Linked DNA regions of Homo sapiens. The protein of the gene in region 1 purifies or fractionates together with the protein of each later gene. This does not show direct contact. Each region holds a gene or a part of one and is shown in the gene's direction. Other genes may lie near its edges. The genes, in order: SUN3, PCYOX1L, GAS6, TBC1D9 and LAPTM4A.

Region 1 (3,517 bases):
TCAATTTAAAAAATAGTGGATTGGAAATTAAAGTAATTCATAGACTCAACCTAGATTAAGCAAGAATGAAAATAAGTAAGTTTGTTGACGTGAGTGTAGTGGCTAAAGTCCAAGTTAAATGCATGATGTTGTTAAATTCTTTTTCTAATCATTGTTTTTATTCTTTTAGGGTAACTCGATCATGGAAGATTATTCTAAGTACAATGCTTACACTGACTTTTCTTCTTGTAGGTAAGTCTTCCTAAGTAATGATCCTTAAAACCATTCCACAGGTTATGTCTGCCTGGTGAGAGAGATCTCAACGGAATGACTCATATTTGTAAATAAATGCCACGGAAAGTGCTGGAGGTGACCTGCACATTCTCAAAGCTTTTTCGTTTGTTTTTTATTTCTGATTGTAAGAGTAATACTGGCTTTTTAATAGAAAATTTAGAAAGGAGATTTTTCTTTTAGAATTGTGGTTTGCTTTTTGCAAATTTTTTAGTCATAGATGTTGCTTTAAAGTTAAGAATTTCTAATATATTTATTGCAAACATACATTTTACCTTTTCTAAATTTAGGTGACTCCACTTGGGAGGTTTTGACAACCAGAGACTCTTGCTCATCACACAGTTCCCAAATAAATTACTGCAGAATGTGCAGTTTGTAGTTTCGTATCGGGAAATATCACCATCCACCACCCCTAGCACACTGGAAAATTGTTCTTTAATATATTCACAACTTAAGGCATGTATCTCCCATTAAAATAAAAGTTTCAACCCAGTTATTGTTACAAAAAAGATCATATAGCATGTGATCTTTCTTATCTGCCTTCTTTCACTTAGCATAATGTTTTTAAGGTTCATCCATATCCTATCATGTGTCAGTTCCTCATTCCTTTTTGTAGCTAAATAATATTTCATTGTATGTATATACCTCATTTTGTTTATCCATTTATCTATTCATGGACATTTAGAGTGCTTTTATCTTTAGGCTATTGTGAATAGTGATGCTGTGCATAAGTGTGTATGTGTGCTTATTTGAACACCTGTTCTCAATTCTTTCAAGTATATACATAGGAATGAGATTTCTGGGGAGGAACCACCAGACTGTTTTCCTCAATGGCTGCACTATTTTACATTCCCACAAGCAGTGTAGGAGGACTGCTATAGTTTGGATATCTGTCCTCCCAAACCTCATGTTGAAATTTGAACCCCAGTGTTGCAGGTGGGGGCCTAATGGAAGGCATTTGGGTCATGAGGACAGATTCCTCATGAATCACTTGGTTCCATCCTTACAGTAATGAGTTGTCACTCTATTAGTTCCTGTGGGAGCTAATTGTTAAAAAGAACCTGACTTCTCCCAGCTCTCTCTTGCTCCCTCTCTCACCATGTGATCTCTGCACATGCTGGCTCCTCCTTTGCCTTCCACCATGAGCGGAAGCAGCTGGAGACCCTCACCAGTTGTAGATGCTGGTGCCATGCTTCTTGTACAGCCTATAGAACTGTGAGCCAAATAAACCTCTTTTCTTTATAAATTACCCAACCTCAGATATTCCTTTACAGCAACACAAATGGATTAAAACAAGAAGTCCAATTTCTCTACATTTCCACTATCATTTTTTTCCTTTTTTTTTAAATTACAGCCACCTGATGGATGAAAAGTCATGTTTCATCATGGTTTGATTTCTCTAATGACTAATGATGTCAAGCATCTTTTTATGTGCTTATTGACCGTTTGTATGTGTTCCTTGGAGACATGTCCATTAAAGTCTTTTGCTCATTTTTGATTAGGTTGTTTGTCCTTTTGTTGTTGAGTTGGAAGAGTTTTTTAATATATTCTAGATACCAAATCCTTCTCAGATATATCACTTGAAAACATTTCTTTCATTCTAGGTTGTCTTTCATTCTAGGTTGTCTTTGCACTTTCTTTGATACACGAAGGTTTGTAATTTTGAGGGTGTCATATTGAAGCATCCATTGCCAAACCTTTTTAAAAGAGTTTTCTGGTTTTAGCTCTTATAATATTTAGGTAATTGACCCATTTTGAGTTCATTTTTGTATATGATGCAAGGGATCCAACTTCATTTTTTGGCATGTGGAAAGCCAAAGTAATATTTGCTAAAAATATTACTCTTTCCCTATAGGAATCTTTGAATGTCTTGTCCTCTGTTCCAAAAACTGAATTGGCTATAGTTGAATGGGTTTATTTCTGGATATTCTAGCCCATTAGTCTATATGTCTATCATTATCCAGTATCATGCTGTTTGGATTTTGATAAAGATTACTTTGAATCTGTGGACAGCTTTAGGTAGTGTTGCCATCTTAGCAGTAGTAAATCTTCCAATTCATGAACACAAGTTGTCCTTCCATTTATTTAGGTCTTCTTTAATTTCTTTCAGCCATGTTTTATAAATTTCAGTTTTGATTCTAAAGTAAATCTCTTGTAAGCAGCATATAGTTGAATCATGTTTTTAAATTCATTCTGCCAGCCTCTGCCTTTTGATTGGAAAGTTTAATCCATTTTCATTTACATTAATTACTACTAAGGAATGACTTACTTCTGCCATTTTTCTATTTTTTAGAAAATCTATATCTTATACCTTTTTTGTTCTTCATTTCCTTCTTTACTGCCTTCTTTTGTGTTTAATTGCTTTGTTGTAGTGCACTCTTTTGATTCTGATCTGTTTCATTTTGTATACGTTTTTTAGATATTTTCTTAGTGGTTACCATGGGGATTTCAACTGAGACCCTACATTTATAACAATATAGTTTAAATTTATACCAAATTAACTTTAATAGAATGCAAATACTCTGCTCCTATTCAGCTCTGCTCCTCTTTTTTTTCCTCCTTATGATCTGTATTCACTGGGATTTACTCCTCTTTATGTTGTCAAAAATTACATCTTTACACATTGGGTACCCATAAACATAGATTTATAATTATGCTTTATAAATTTGTCTTTTAAATTATGAAAGAAATAAAAGAAGGAGTTACAAACCCAAAACAATAATACTGGTTTCATATTTACCTCTCTGTTACCTTTACTGGAGATTTTGATTGCTTCATGCGGCATTGAGTTACTCTCTAATGTCCTTTCACTGCAGCCTGAAGGAATCCCTTTAGCACTTCCTGAAGGGCTGGTCTAGTCATAGAGACACCATGAGCTTTTCTTTATCTTAGAATATGTTAATTTTTTCTGCAGTTGGGAGAATCGTTTTCTCATATATAGAATTTTTTTTCTTTCAACGCTTTAAATATGTCATCCCACTGTCTTCTGGCCTCTATAGTTTCTGAAGAAAAAAATCAGGTGATAATCCAACAAAGACTTTCTTCTATATAACAAGGCATTGCTCTCTTTCTGCTTTCAAGATTATCTCTGTGTTTTTGTCTTTCAACAGTTTGATTATAATAGGTTTCAGCATGAGTCTTTTTAAGTTTGTCTTACTTGAAGTTTGTTGAGTTTCTTGGATGTGTAGATTCATGGCTTTTTATCAACTTTGGAACTTTTTCAGCCATTATTTCTTCAAATGTTCTT
Region 2 (3,517 bases), on another chromosome or scaffold:
GCAAAAATTATAGGTAGGGTGGTAGTCCAGTTCAGTAGCTTCATAGCTGGTTTATAGTTCTCTCACAGGACTGTTTAATGATTAGTGTCAGGTGAGGCACAGTGGCTAATGCCTGTAATTCCAGCACTTGGGGAGGCCAAGGCAGGAGGATCACTTGAGCTCAGGAGTTCAAGACCAGCCTGGGCAACATGGTGAAACCTCATCTCTACGAAAAATATGTCGGGCATGGTGGCATGTGCCTGTAGTCTCAGCTACTTGGGAGCCTGGGAGGTTTGCAGTGAGCCAATATCATGCCACTGCACTCCAGCCTGGGCAACAGAGCCAGATCCTGTTTGAAAAAAAACTGATTGATGTCTGTCCAGGCAGTGGTTTCCTAGCAGCACCTCCAAGCCCTGTCCCAGGAAACATTCTTATCAGTGACTTCGATGAGAATAGTGATGGCATGTAAACCAAGTTTACAAATAACAGGAAGGCAGGAGGTACAGTAAAGACAGTGTATGATAAGACCCAAAAAAGCTGAAACTTTGTAACAAGATTTCAAACTGGAATATAGTGTCCTGTAGGGTAATGAACAATCCATCATAGAGTACATTCCAGTCTCTTTTTTTTGAGATGGAGTTTTGCTCTTGTTTCCCAGGCTGGAGTGCAATGGCACGATCTCAGCTCACCACAACCTCCGCCTCCCAGGTTCAAGCGATTCTCCTGCCTCAGCCTCCTGAGTAGCTGGGATTGCAGGCATGCGCCACCACACCCAGCTAATTTTGTATTTTTAGTAGAGACAGGGTTTCACCATGTTTGTCAGGCTGGTCTCGAACTCCTGACTTCAGGTGATCTGCCCCCGCTAGGCCTCCCAAAGTGTTGTGATTACAGGCGTGAGCCACCGCGCCTGGCAGATACATTCCAGTCTTGACAAACACAGACATAAGGATGATTTAGGTGTCCGATAGTAGGTTGGACTAGACCAGGAGTTGGCATACTTTTTTCTGTAAATGGCCAGAGAGTAAATATTTTAGGCTTTTCAGGCCATGCAGTCTCTGTTGCAGCTACTCAACTCTGCCTAAAATGAAAACAGTCATAGACAATAATTGAAAGAAAGAGCATCATGGCTGTGTTTCAATAAAACTCTAGTTTGCAAAAACAGGCATCTTTCTGGATTTGGCCTGCAGGCTGTAGTTTGCCAATCCCTGGATTAAGGCCTGGTTTCCAAACACTGATCACTGAACAGAACTGGTCAGTAACTTTTAACAATTCATAGGGAAATAAGAAAGTTAGAAGCAAGGTAGTGAGTTTTATATAAAACTAAATTTATTCTCTTTAATTGGTCATCCTGACTTTCAGTATTCTTTGCTGGTCTTTTGCTGCAAAATACCTTTTTCTTTATGAAACGAAAGTATAGTAGGCAGCAGTTTTCAGGTTTGCCTTTGCTTATTAATAGCTCTACTGACAACTCAGTCCGCAGATTTCCTTTTGGAAATGTTATAAGCCTAGGAAATTTAAGCACCTGGGAACCACCAGCGCAGGAGGATACAAAGTGTGAACTACAGCCTCTCACTCTCATGTTCTGTCTCTCTTCTTCCCTACCTCCCGGGCCTGCTGACAGCGGTGGTTGGGGCTGGGATTGGGGGCTCTGCTGTGGCCCATTTTCTCCAGCAGCACTTTGGACCTCGGGTGCAGATCGACGTGTACGAGAAGGGAACCGTGGGTGGCCGCTTGGCCACCATCTCAGTCAACAAGCAGCACTATGAGAGCGGGGCTGCCTCCTTCCACTCCCTGAGCCTGCACATGCAGGACTTCGTCAAGCTGCTGGGTGAGTGGTCAGTCCTGGGGCTCCAGTGCCCAGCGCCCTGGGGCTGGTGACAGCACTGGGCCCTTCTCAGACTTCCCAGACCATCAAGGCCAGAAGGTCATGTGGCCCAATCTCATTTTACAGATGGAGCAACAGAAACAAGAGAGGGGAAGGAACTTGCCTGAGGTTACACAGTGAGTTAGTTGCAGAGCCGGGATTAGAACTCAGGTTTGACTCCTAGGCCAGTTTCTTTCCCTTTCAATTTGCTGCCTCTAAATAATCGTGATTATATCACCTTCCACATGCTAGTGCTTGCCAGGCACCTTCTGGGTGGTATGTAGGCATTACCTCAGCTCCCCTCTACCAACCTGCAAGATGAGTGTTATATCTCCTCTTAAGGCAACTGAGGCTCAGAAAATGTATAGATTTAAGCTAAAGCCATTACAGCGAGAGGTGGGATTCAAACCCAGCAGCATCTGTCCAATACACGTTCTGTTTGATGCAGAAACTCTGCTTCTCAGAAGTGATGCTACAGGTGGTCTTACAGATGTGCAAAGTAGCATAGATACCAAGTTATTCACTACAGCATTGTTTGTAATAGCAAAAGGCTGAAAGTATCCTAGCTGCCTATCCACTAGGACCTGGGGTTAAACAAATTATTGTATAACTACACAATAGGCTGTTCAGCAGTCAGAATGGGGAAGTCTTTATGCCCAGATACAGGGCAATCTCCAAGATACAGTGTATTGTTAAAGTGGAGAGCAGTGTGTGTAGTATGTGGGGGTGGGGAAGGAACAAGTCATAGCAGCTCTGTCTGTGTTTAGGAGTCCACTGCTCTGTCAAGTTGCAGAGTGCAGGATGGCTGTAAGGAGCTAGGATAACTTCCAAGTGATCTCAGTGCCCAAGGCCACCATCTCCAAACAAGCCCAGTGGCTGTCACCCCCTGGACATTCTGGGATAAAATCTGAATTTCCCTCACTTGTGGATCCTCCTGGGGAAAAAAAATGTAAAATGTTACATTATTTTCATTTTCATTTTTTTATTGACTTGGTAGTCCAAACATTTTCCCAGTGCATCTGTTTACTGTTTATTAACAAGCAGCACAAATGAACAAACCATAGCATTTGTGTTTCCTTTAATGGACCAGTCCATTTGCATCAAGAGGGCCCCAAGTCTTGGAGGGGACCTGAGGGGCTCCTCTTTGTCTCTGCAGGGCTGAGGCACCGGCGCGAGGTGGTGGGCAGGAGCGCCATCTTCGGCGGGGAGCACTTCATGCTGGAGGAGACTGACTGGTACCTGCTGAACCTCTTCCGCCTCTGGTGGCACTATGGCATCAGCTTCCTGAGGCTGCAGATGTGGGTGGAGGAGGTCATGGAGAAGTTCATGAGGTAGGGCTGGCAGAGCTGTGGGGATGGCGTTCCAGGGGAACCGAGAAGAGGTGGGGGAGGAACCAGCTTGCCTGTACTTTGTGAAAAAGGAAAAGGTCCTTGCTGAATTGAGCCAGCACAATTCAGTGCAGGCTCAGAGCAAGCCCCTGGCATGAGGAATGGCCGTATTTGGTCCAGTAATGGTCTCCCTAGTATTGTCACATTGACTCTCATTTTCTTACCCTCTACTACACTGATACTAATAAAAGCATGGGTTGCAAACTCAGTCGCTTAACAAGGGCTGAACTGGGATGCGAGTCAGTGAATCAGCAGGTGGAAGAGAGCAGAACAAGGCCCCCTCTGA
Region 3 (3,517 bases), on another chromosome or scaffold:
CTCTTGGCTCAGGTGTGGATCAGGTGGTCTCTCTGAAGTTGGGACCCTCTTGGCCCAGGTGAGGATCAGGTGGTCTCCCCGGGTCAGGTCCCTCTTGGCCCAGGTGAGGATCATGTGGTCTCCCTGAGATTGAGACCCTCTTGGCCCAGGTGAGGATCAGGTGGTGTCCCTGAGATTGGGACCTTCTTGGCTCAGGTGTGGATCAGGTGGTCTCCCTGAGGTCAGGTCCCTCTTGGCCAGGTGAGGATCAGGTGGTCTCCCTGAGATTGGGACCCTCTTCGCCCAGGTGAGGATCAGGTGGCCTCCCTGAGATTGGGACCCTCTTGGCCCAGGTGAGGATCATGTGGTCTGCCTGAGATTGAGACCCTCTTGGCCCAGGTGAGGATCAGGTGGTCTCCCTGAGATCGGGACCCTCTTGGCTCAGGGGAGGATCAGGTGGTCTCCCTGAGGTCGGGACCCTCTTGGCCCAGGTGAGGATCAGGTGGCCTCCCTGAGATCGGGACCCTCTTGGCCCAGGTGAGGATCATGTGGTCTGCCTGAGATTGAGACCCTCTTGGCCCAGGTGAGGATCAGGTGGTCTCCCTGAGATCGGGACCCTCTTGGCTCAGGGGAGGATCAGGTGGTCTCCCTGAGGTCGGGACCCTCTTGGCTCAGGGGAGGATCAGGTGGTCTCCCTGAGATCGGGACCCTCTTGGCTCAGGGGAGGATCAGGTGGTCTCCCTGAGGTTGGGACCCTCTTGGCCCAGGTGAGGATCAGGTGGCCTCCCCGAGGTCGGGACCCTCTTGGCTCAGGAGAGGATGAGTGTGGTTTTTCTCAGTTGGGAGCCCCTTCAGAACGTGCACTCCCATCTTTTCTCATGGCGCTGCCTCTCTTCAGATCTCTGTTGAGGAGCTGGCGCGGAATCTGGTCATCAAGGTCAACAGGGATGCTGTCATGAAAATCGCGGTGGCCGGGGACTTGTTCCAACCGGAGCGAGGACTGTATCATCTGAACCTGACCGTGGGAGGTATTCCCTTCCATGAGAAGGACCTCGTGCAGCCTGTGAGTACTGTACCTGTCCCTGTGTAGACGCGCCGTGTGCTGGGATCCCGGGAACGGTGTCAGGAAGCCTCAGTCACACCCTGCCCTGTGTTTACCATTAACCAGGTGTGAGGAGGACCTAGAGGAAGGAAAGGTTTCCTAGAGTTTGACAAAGTCGCCGTACAGCTATGTCATTAATTTTACCATCTCTTTTTATGAGACCTAAGTTTTCATCTGAATTGATAATAAAGTTGTCTATTTTTCAATGGAGATAAGACACAATTAAATTATTATTATTTTTTTTGAGACGGAGTCTTGCTCTGTTGCCCAGGCTGGAGTGCAGTGGCGCGATCTCGGCTCACTGCAAGCTCCGCCTCCCGGGTTCACGCCATTCTCCTGCCTCAGCCTCCCAGGCAGCTGGGACTACAGGCGCCCGCCACCACGTCCGGCTAATTTTTTTGTATTTTTAGTAGAGACGGGGTTTCGCCGTGGTCTCGATCTTCTGACCTCGTGAACTGCCCACCTCGGCCTCCCAAAGTGCTGGGATTACAGGCGTGAGCCACCGCGCCCGGCCGAAATTATTCTTTAACAGAACAGTAAACTTTTTTGGACAATTTCCAAGAACATTTTGGGTTTTGTAACTCTGCCGTGAGTCTCATAAGGGGAAAACAGCCATGATGGGCGGTCAGTGTGGGCCATTGCTCCAGGTCCCGCCTTCTCTCCCCTTCAGCACAGCACACGCCCGTGCCCCCGACCTGTGTCTCCAGCCCCCACGTGCTGACGTCTAAGCCGTCATCCTGGGTATTTTCACTTCCACACCAGGCAGGAGAAAGGCACGCATGTCTTCGCGTCTTTGGGTGCTGAGTGTCGGCAGTGCCTGTGCTGAAGCCACCCCTTCAGTGTTGTGAGGGGCACCTGCTCCCCAGGCCCACAGACTGCCTGGTGCCGGGACCTTCGGTGTTGTGAGGGGCACCTGCTTCCCAGGCCCACAGACAGCCTGGTGCCGGGACTTTGCCTGGCTGGACCCTCCTCGTTTCACAGATAAGGGGGTTGCCCTGATTTGCCCACAGCCATATTGAATATTGAATAATTCACATGAGTGTTGGATGGTTGAACAATCCATACTCTTTGACCTTAGACCCACATGGCCTTTTCAGTCCTTTCCTAGCTTTAAAATGAACCTTTAGTTCTTGAGCATACACCAGTGGAAATAGGTATTCTGCAGTGAGGCGTTGTGTAAAGTGAAGAAACCTTCTGTGAAATGGCCACCACCGATGGGACTGGCCCGTTTCTGCCGTAGAGCTGCACATACCAGGGCCGCGAAGGCGCCACCCACCGACTGGGGCATCCGGCATGGGGCTTCTCGCTCCCAGGAAGCCACGGAGATTTCTCTGCCTTTCCAGATAAACCCTCGTCTGGATGGCTGCATGAGGAGCTGGAACTGGCTGAACGGAGAAGACACCACCATCCAGGAAACGGTGAAAGTGAACACGAGGATGCAGTGCTTCTCGGTGACGGAGAGAGGCTCTTTCTACCCCGGGAGCGGCTTCGCCTTCTACAGCCTGGACTACAGTAAGTCTTGGCTCTTACCGTTGGGGTGGCTGTGGCTGCACCTTCAGACAGGCATACGCTGAAAGCAAGCAGACGGCCTCAGATGGCAGCGTCAGGACAAGCTGAGGCTCCTCCGGTTCCGGGGCAGGGATGGGTGGGCGGGGTGGGCGGAGGTGCGGGCAGAGGCCCACCTCTCAGGATGGCCATGCAGGTCACTCAGTTCAGAGTCAGCCAGTGAAGAAGAAATGAGAGAGATGTGCCGAGAAGGTGCCTGCGAAGCCAGTGCCAGGAGGCCGGGGAGAGAAGGTGCCTGCGAGGCCGGCGCCAGGAGGCGGGGGAGAGAAGGTGCCTGCGAGGCCGGCGCCAGGAGGCCGGGGAGAGAAGGTGCCTGCGAGGCCGGCGCCGGGAGGCCGGGGAGAGAAGGTGCCTGCGAGGCCAGCGCCGGGAGGCCGGGGAGAGAAGGTGCCTGCGAGGCCGGCGCCGGGAGGCCGGGGAGAGAAGGTGCCTGCGAGGCCGGCGCCGGGAGGCCGGGGAGAGAAGGTGCCTGCGAGGCCGGCGCCGGGAGGCTGGGGAGAGAAGGTGCCTGCGAGGCCAGCGCCGGGAGGCCGGGGAGAGAAGGTGCCTGCGAGGCCGGGGAGGCTGGGAGCCTTACAGGGTCCTTTGCAGAAAGTCCGGAGACAGCACAGCCTTAGGACTCGTCCAGGGGCACAGAGAAGCTCTCGGTAACATGGTGGACACCGTGGTCACCGATGACCCGGTGAGACAGCTACAATGGGAGGTGTGTAAAAACAGCCGTGAAGCTGCCTGGGGGACAGTGAACCTAGGCCTGAAAAAGGGAGGACAGGGTGGATGTGAGCTGCTGGCCCAGTCCTGTGACGCCACGCTGCCGCCCTCCCCAGTGCAGGCTCCGGGGGTGCTGCTGTGAGGATAGTGTTACTGCTCGGC
Region 4 (3,517 bases), on another chromosome or scaffold:
ACATCTCTAGTCATATTAATACCAGTTGTGTGCTTTGTGTTTTATTCCTTATTAGGGCATCATTGCAGAATACAACAAAATCAATGATGTAAAGGAAGATGATGACACGGAGAAGTTTAAAGAAGCCATTGTGAAATTTCATAGGCTGTTTGGGATGCCAGAGGAAGAGAAACTCGTCAACTATTACTCTTGCAGCTATTGGAAGGGGAAGGTCCCCCGTCAGGGTTGGATGTACCTCAGCATTAACCACCTTTGCTTTTATTCTTTTCTTATGGGAAGGGAAGGTAAGTCATCTAAAATTTCAGCAGGAAACTTTGGAAAGTCTACTGAGGTTTGCCCTGAACTCATAAACCACATCAAAATATCAGAAATAAATCTATAGTTATAACTAAGTCAATACTAATTTTTTTTTACTACTGAAGTGAATTTAATTATTTTTCAGTTCAAAATGGTCACTAAGTAATAAAGATTCACTAAAGGTGTAATTAATTCAGTAGACATGGATTAAATCTATAATTCTGACCTCAGAATTCACATGGCCCAGATTTACCTCTTAAAATGAACAAGCAAAACAAATATGGTATTATAAACTCAAAGGAGTTCAGTGGGATGGGGGAGTGGGGTTGTGAGACTGCAATATCTTGAAAGCGTTTTCAGGAATCAGATGTTGACCCAGGCTTGTTCCTTGTGCTCAGCGAAACTGGTCATCCGGTGGGTAGACATCACTCAGCTTGAGAAGAATGCCACCCTGCTTCTGCCTGATGTGATCAAAGTGAGCACACGGTCCAGTGAGCATTTCTTCTCTGTATTCCTCAACATCAACGAGACCTTCAAGTTAATGGAGCAGCTTGCCAACATAGCCATGAGGCAACTCTTAGACAATGAGGGATTTGAACAAGATCGATCCCTGCCCAAACTCAAAAGGAAATCTCCTAAAAAAGTGTCTGCTCTAAAACGGTGGGTGATAGAGACCTTGTATCTTCCAGACTTTAGAAATGAGAAACTCACTCATTCATTTATTCAGTGTAACCTTCTCTGACGATCTTCAAGGGTTCTGAACACTCTTCTGTGTATAGATACAAAACTAAAAAAGACTAGCTGAGGTGCTACCAGTTCAGAAAGTGAGACAGACATGACCTGCTCCAACACAAGGCAGCAGGCACTCTTCTGGTCCTGTGAACACAGTGCTGTGGGTGCACACATGGGGAGTGATAGCCTCAGCCCAGATGGGGAAGAGTGGGTAAGAAAGGCCTCTCAGTGGAGGCTGCTTTGAGCTGGGCTCTGAAGAGGTGATAGAAGTTACCTGTGCAGGTACATATCCATGCCTGGATATTTCAAGCAGAGGGAAGATGACGATGGGGGAAACACAAGGGAAAACACAGAGAGAAGTAACTTTGTCACATGGCTAGTAGGTGGCAGGGCATGGGATGAGGAGAGGCTGCAGAGAAGCCTCAAAGTCTGAATGTGAGAGCAGAGCTAGAGAGAGGGTGATGGAAAGTTGATGCCCCATGTGCCTGGAATTACCCTTCATCAACACAGGGAATGAGAGAAGGAAGAGCATGTCCAAGGGATACGATAGCTCAGCTTTGATTATGTTGAATTGAGGTGCCTGTAGCTCATCTAAGTAGAGATCAGTCCAGTAAGATATACAAAATTGGAAATCATTGATGTGCATTTGGTAGTTGAAATCTAACCAGAGGTCTTTGTAATTAAGATGTCCTTGGTGATTTGAGACATGTTCAAAAGAGCAGTGTAAGATAGATGCTGCTACTGCAGCGGATCAAATAAAAAATAAAAGACAAGGAAAGGGAACTAGGCAAATACAGACTTCATTTTCAAGAAATTCAGTGGTAAAGGAGGGGAGGATTGCTTTTTTTTTTAGAATGAAAAAGATTTGAACATAGTATCAAATGAAGGAGGCAGATGGGAAGAGCATTTTGGTGAGGGTAGGTGTGGAGACAGGAAGGGACATAGAGATAGTTATAAGAAAGTTGATCATTTAAGAAGTGATATTTTGTAGAGAAAGCATGGAAAGGATGCTTGTGTGTCCTGATATACCTTTTCCTTTGGAATGGAGAGGAAGTAAGAGTAGGTGAGGATGGAGGTGACTTTGGAGACAGAAGGGAAGGAATTGGAGGGGGCTTCTGCATCATGGACCTTTGCTCTATGAAGTCAGAGACTAGACCATCACGAGGCTGATGTCAGGTAGAAGCTTGAGGGGAGAGGTTTAAACAACTGACATGATGAGCAAGAACAAAGAACTCATTAGAGAAAAGATAGTAGTTAACAGAAGACCCAGCTAAGGTCAGAAGCCATAGTTGCCCAAGGTGAGTTGTTCCTGTGTCTTTTCCTGCAGCTTTGTTGTCGATTTGGGGTGGACACTGAGGCCCAGTGGATTTATATGGCTGGTTTGCATTCTCATTAGGTCTTAAAAGATAAGGCCCCCCCTAAAGTGGCTTGGATAAGAGTAAATGCAGTGACCTCTTTAGAGTGTATTGCATTTCTTTAGAAAGAGGAAGAGTTTCCTGTTCAGGCTTATTTTTGCTATGATTCTTTAACATTTACAGACATGGATTATAAGTGACTATGCAAGGGACTGAAATATAATAAGATAATTTTATTACGCTTTTGGGTCATTAGGTTGGGGTTAACTTCAATATAAAGAAAGCTGAGAAGCGGGGGATGAGTCTAGCAAGATTGAGGAGGTGGAAAATGGGCTGGGGGAACTTCCGCTGCTGCATAATTTAGAAGGTATGGAAACATTTTTCTTATGTGAATTGTAATTATTGCTTTCCAGTGATCTTGATGCCAGGGCAAAGAGTGAGAGATACCGTGCACTTTTCCGGCTGCCCAAAGATGAAAAATTAGATGGCCACACAGACTGCACTCTCTGGACTCCATTTAACAAAATGCACATTTTGGGGCAGATGTTTGTGTCCACAAATTACATCTGTTTTACCAGCAAGGAGGAGAACTTATGTAGCCTCATTATCCCGCTCCGTGAGGTAAGTATCTGATAAAAATTGATATTTTAAGTTTCATTTGTAATACTTTTCTGGGTGAACCAGGAATAATTTTTTTACCAACAATTGGCTTTTGAACACAGGTGAATGTTCATGCGTCTTTGGTGGCACCTGCATTCTTTCATTTGTTGTCACTGCTGTGACTCTGGGACCTGTGAGATCTCTTCTTCCAGAAGCTGCATGGGGGTTTTTTAATGTAGGTTTTGTTTTTATTTTATTTTATTAGAGACAGTCTCGCTCTGTCACCCACGCTGGAGTGCAGTGGCATGATCTCAGCTTACTGCAACCTCCACCCTCCAGGTTCAAGCGATTCTCCTGCCTCAGCCTCCTGAGTAGCTGGAATTACAGGCGCCTGCCACCATGCCCAGCTAATTTTTGTATTTTTAGTAGAGATGGAGTTTCACCATGTTGGGCAGACTGGTCTCGAACTCCTGGCCTCAGGTGATCCACCCACCTTGGCCTCCCAAAGTGCTGGGATTACAGACATGAGCCAC
Region 5 (4,100 bases), on another chromosome or scaffold:
GTATTTTATTGGGGAGATAATCAACAAATACATACATAATTTCAGGCAGTGTTCAAAGAAGCCATGCCAAAGAAATAACCTTTACTCTGAATTCAGTGTGGTCTCTGGCTAAGAATATGCCCTGGCAGAAGGGAAGCCCTTTCTATTCTCTGAAAAGAAGTGTGTTTACCAAAGCATTAAATGATAAATACATTTTTTAACGGTGAAGTCACAGGTCTCACAGAAATACAAAATGAACACGTGTAAAAAATTTATTTACTCATTAACCCGGGGACCAGTAAGCTGTTAGAACCAGCTCTAAGCAGAATTTAAAGCACCCATCTATATTGTTGAATCAGGACTGGGGAATGAATTTACAAATCGATGCAAAATGGCTTTTCCCAAGGAAGGGTAAGATAACAATACGAGGGGTCTTACCGAGTTGTGCAGAGCACCACAAAGAAAAGCGGACAGCCCCTCTAGCAACAGAATGCCCGGGACGGTGTGCCAAACTATGGCTGTTTTTTCATTGAAGACATTCAGTAATTTTTTGTCCATTTCAATGTGTTTCATAATTTCTCCCTACAAAAAAAAATCACTCATCTCCAAAAACCCAGCAGCTAAGTAGTTCTTCTACATTATCTTGCTTTCATTTATCCTTAATCCTTTTGCCTTTGGCAGGGTTGGATGGTCTTTCTTCGCCCCCACCAAGGAGGCTTCGGAGGGAAAAGAGGGTGTAAATCCAATCCCTCCACTCCTCCAGGCACCCTCCCATTTCCGCCACAGGGGCGAGGATGGCTCAAGGCTGGGCTTGGCTCTGTCCCTTCCCCGCAGGCCCCGCCCCCAGCCCGCGCAATAATTGAGCTGCGCGCAAAGGTCACGTTATCAGCCTGTGACGCTTCCCATCCAGTACGTGGCACACATTGCTCAGAAAAGCCCCTTGTGCCCGCTTTCTGCCATCCGCGCTGTCTCGTGTCTCCCTTTTTCCATTAAATGCCTCTTTTCTTGCGGGTCTCATCTCGGGAATAGTGCACTACGGGGACATACCTATCCCCAACTATCCTAGGCCCGAGAACCAGCCCTTGCCTTCGCGTAACAGGCGGAGACTCGCTGAGGCGAGTTGCACTTCTAATTGGGCGTGAGGTCTTGTCAATCCCCAAGTTCTTCCAATCAGAAGTCCGGTCCATCCAGCCTTCCGCTCCCCATTGGCCTGTGTGGAGGAAGAGGGGTGGGTAAGCCGAAGTCGCTGCGCTCAGTGCGCAGGCGCGAAGAAGCTGGCAGGGGCACGAGCCGGGGGCGGGTTTGAAGACGCGTCGTTGGGTTTTGGAGGCCGTGAAACAGCCGTTTGAGTTTGGCTGCGGGTGGAGAACGTTTGTCAGGGGCCCGGCCAAGAAGGAGGCCCGCCTGTTACGATGGTGTCCATGAGTTTCAAGCGGAACCGCAGTGACCGGTTCTACAGCACCCGGTGCTGCGGCTGTTGCCATGTCCGCACCGGGACGATCATCCTGGGGACCTGGTACATGGTAAGGCGGGCAGGCGTGGCGCGTATGTCCGGGGGGCCTGGGGAGCGGGGCCTGGTGCGGAGGGGGTGAGACTGGAAACGGGGTGTTGGGTGGGGCGGGGACTTGGAGGGGCGCTGCTTTTTAAGGCGCGCCAACTCTGGATGAAGTCCAAGGACTTTGGGAAAGTAACCTTGTTCAGGAATCGGAGTCGGGGGAGCGGGGGGCGGTGGTAAGCATGGGGAGATTGTTCTTTGGCAAGAATTTGAGGAGAGAAGCGGGCTTGGGAGAGCAGAGGCTTTGCAGGCGAAGGGACGAGGGTGGTAGGATTTGGTGGGAATTCCTCTGTTTTGGTTCTTGTTGTATTTCTACGATCTGAAAGGCAGCATCTCCCTTCCTCCTATCCAGTGCTCCCTGGAATTTTTTCCTCTAATGAAATAATTAGGAGCGGACCTTGGTAAACGCAGTCTAGTTTCGACATTGGTCTTCCCGTTGGGAAAGCGAAAGATCCAGCGGTAACCCGGTTGTCCGCGTTTCTTGGACTTTGTTTTGTTTCATGCCTCTCTTGCATCTCCAGAATCGCTTGGGGGCGATAGCTTTTGCCTGAGTTGACGCCTGACCAGCTTTTGTCCTGGTGCAGCCTCCTCCCTGCGCAGTAGGTGCTTTTCGTAGCCGACCGGCTGTTTTTACAGAGACCTTTATTGAGAGCCCTCTCCATCCTGGCCACCTACCCCGGTATCTCCTGGGTTCCAAGATCTGTGTGATTCTGTCCTAACCAAGTTGACACTGTTGTTGCCTGGTGATTCACTAGTAATAAGTTTGTGATTTTTTCTTTTGTAATTCACCATTTATAGTATCCATGCACATTAAACCTAACTTGTCTATGACTTCCAAATATGGGATTCAGTTTAGGTAGTTTTAGGTTATTATGATTTTGCCGAAGCCGTGACAAACTTCCTACATGGTCGACTTGGCCACTTTAATGACTTCGCGAATGTGGTTGTGTGGGTGACGTTGGTGATACTGTGCAGTTTTTGATACTTAACTGCAAAAGAGGAAGAGAGTTATCCCAGACACAATCTGTTTTCTCTGTACTTGCTGCTTCTCCCCACTCATTGACTTGAAATCATTAGTAAGCATTTGGACAAACGCCAGATGAGAATCATCTTAAATGAGGCAGATACTGTTTCATGGCCCACCCCCGGGGGACTACCTGACTCCACATGACTGCTACCTGCCCTGTTGTTTTTTACCGTCTTGTTTCTGATGTACATTTAAAAAACAACACGAATGTGTAGGTTTGCTTGTGCTGAGTTTATTTTCATGTTTCCTGTACTTTTATATTCGGAAATACCGCCTTATTGACAGAACTATATCACATTTTCCCTCAGAGACTCTTTCGTTCTGTATTTTAACTGATTTGGAATACTAAACATAGAGTTAATGACCATCAGCTGCATTATGTTTCTAACTTCCTTTTATAGCTTCTCCATTTTGCTGAGGGGCTGGGTCTCATTTCTTTTGTTTGTCCTTAGCTCTGTCTTCTATTTCCCTAAATGAATAATTCAAACCTTGAGGATCCTCAAGGCTATTACTCAATTCCGTCTTCCTCACCCCCAGAAGATGACTTTCTTTCCTATTTAACTAAGAGAATCCATCGACCTGGCTCTCTCCTGCAGTCTTAGTCTTCCTGTTTCTTCTCAGATCCTTCCCTCCACTCACAGAACAAAGGATTCCTAACTCCTCAAGAAGAGAATACCACCATTTCTATTTCAACCATCCGAATGTAATTGGCTGTATTTCTTTTCAGTTTTTCTCAGGCAGATTTTTTGATGCTGTGGGCTCAGCTAGAAAATGAATAGAATAGCAGGATAAAGTGGGAACTACAAACAGGAAACTCAAAATGCAGAGAGAAAAACTTCATTACGGGCGCTTATTCTTACAAAATAGGGAGTGAGGAGTTTACATCTGTTCCCTACTTTAAGCCCTTGTTGTGAGAAGGGTTCACATACCTCTGAAGACCATGCTTTAGTTTCACAATTTTAAAAAGATGCCATAGCTGTTCTTACTTTGCATAGACTTCTCAGATTAGTGTAAAACATTTTATTGTAAACTTCTTAAATCGTTTGACCTGTCTTAAATTGATTAAGAGATTTACTGACCACCTGCAGTGTAAAAGGCTTTGGTGGACAAACAAAAGGAATAAATCACAGGGGCCATGTGTCATTTGCCTTGTTTTCCTATTACCTGCTAAGTGCTAGACTCTCAAATGTTTCTTGTCTAACACAGCATCTGCCCTTAAGATATTTATGGTATCACAAACTTGGAGCACAGATATGAAAAACATATGGTACAGTGATGAGGAGGAGGAGAAGGTGATCAGTAATATCAGATTCTAATCAGAATAAGTACTGGAAAAAGGCCATTGGTTTTGTTTATTATAGTTTTGTTGATGACTTTCAAAAGAGTAGCTTGAATACCATAGCAGTGTAAAGACAGTCTCTACCAACTTGGGGAGACATGTAACACTTATGATGCAAGACCACCTAAGCCAAACTGTAGTATAATACTTCGAAGCAAAGAAGGCTTGTCCAAGTAGTGCATTTTATTCTCAGAAGCTGC

The links.
Region 2: the proteins of SUN3 (region 1) and PCYOX1L purify together in Homo sapiens (affinity purification with mass spectrometry; one large-scale study listed by BioGRID and IntAct). This does not show direct contact.
Region 3: the proteins of SUN3 (region 1) and GAS6 purify together in Homo sapiens (affinity purification with mass spectrometry; one large-scale study listed by BioGRID and IntAct). This does not show direct contact.
Region 4: the proteins of SUN3 (region 1) and TBC1D9 purify together in Homo sapiens (affinity purification with mass spectrometry; one large-scale study listed by BioGRID and IntAct). This does not show direct contact.
Region 5: the proteins of SUN3 (region 1) and LAPTM4A purify together in Homo sapiens (affinity purification with mass spectrometry; one large-scale study listed by BioGRID and IntAct). This does not show direct contact.

The regions. Positions count from the first base shown.
Region 1 is NC_000007.14:48,022,591-48,026,107, reverse strand, and holds part of SUN3 (SUN domain-containing protein 3), read left to right. Parts: intron 1-169; coding exon 170-231; intron 232-3,517. UniProt on the Homo sapiens protein: As a probable component of the LINC (LInker of Nucleoskeleton and Cytoskeleton) complex, involved in the connection between the nuclear lamina and the cytoskeleton.
Region 2 is NC_000005.10:149,361,037-149,364,553, forward strand, and holds part of PCYOX1L (prenylcysteine oxidase 1-like isoform 1 precursor), read left to right. Parts: intron 1-1,600; coding exon 1,601-1,807; intron 1,808-2,999; coding exon 3,000-3,174; intron 3,175-3,517. UniProt on the Homo sapiens protein: Likely to have oxidoreductase activity. Required in the mevalonate pathway to regulate prenylation and enhances the bactericidal activity of neutrophils.
Region 3 is NC_000013.11:113,826,072-113,829,588, reverse strand, and holds part of GAS6 (growth arrest-specific protein 6 precursor), read left to right. Parts: intron 1-877; coding exon 878-1,042; intron 1,043-2,424; coding exon 2,425-2,593; intron 2,594-3,517. UniProt on the Homo sapiens protein: Ligand for tyrosine-protein kinase receptors AXL, TYRO3 and MER whose signaling is implicated in cell growth and survival, cell adhesion and cell migration.
Region 4 is NC_000004.12:140,676,382-140,679,898, reverse strand, and holds part of TBC1D9 (TBC1 domain family member 9), read left to right. Parts: intron 1-55; coding exon 56-284; intron 285-695; coding exon 696-957; intron 958-2,797; coding exon 2,798-3,005; intron 3,006-3,517. UniProt on the Homo sapiens protein: May act as a GTPase-activating protein for Rab family protein(s).
Region 5 is NC_000002.12:20,048,812-20,052,911, reverse strand, and holds the start of LAPTM4A (lysosomal-associated transmembrane protein 4A), read left to right. Parts: upstream 1-1,283; 5' UTR 1,284-1,391; coding exon 1,392-1,502; intron 1,503-4,100. UniProt on the Homo sapiens protein: May function in the transport of nucleosides and/or nucleoside derivatives between the cytosol and the lumen of an intracellular membrane-bound compartment.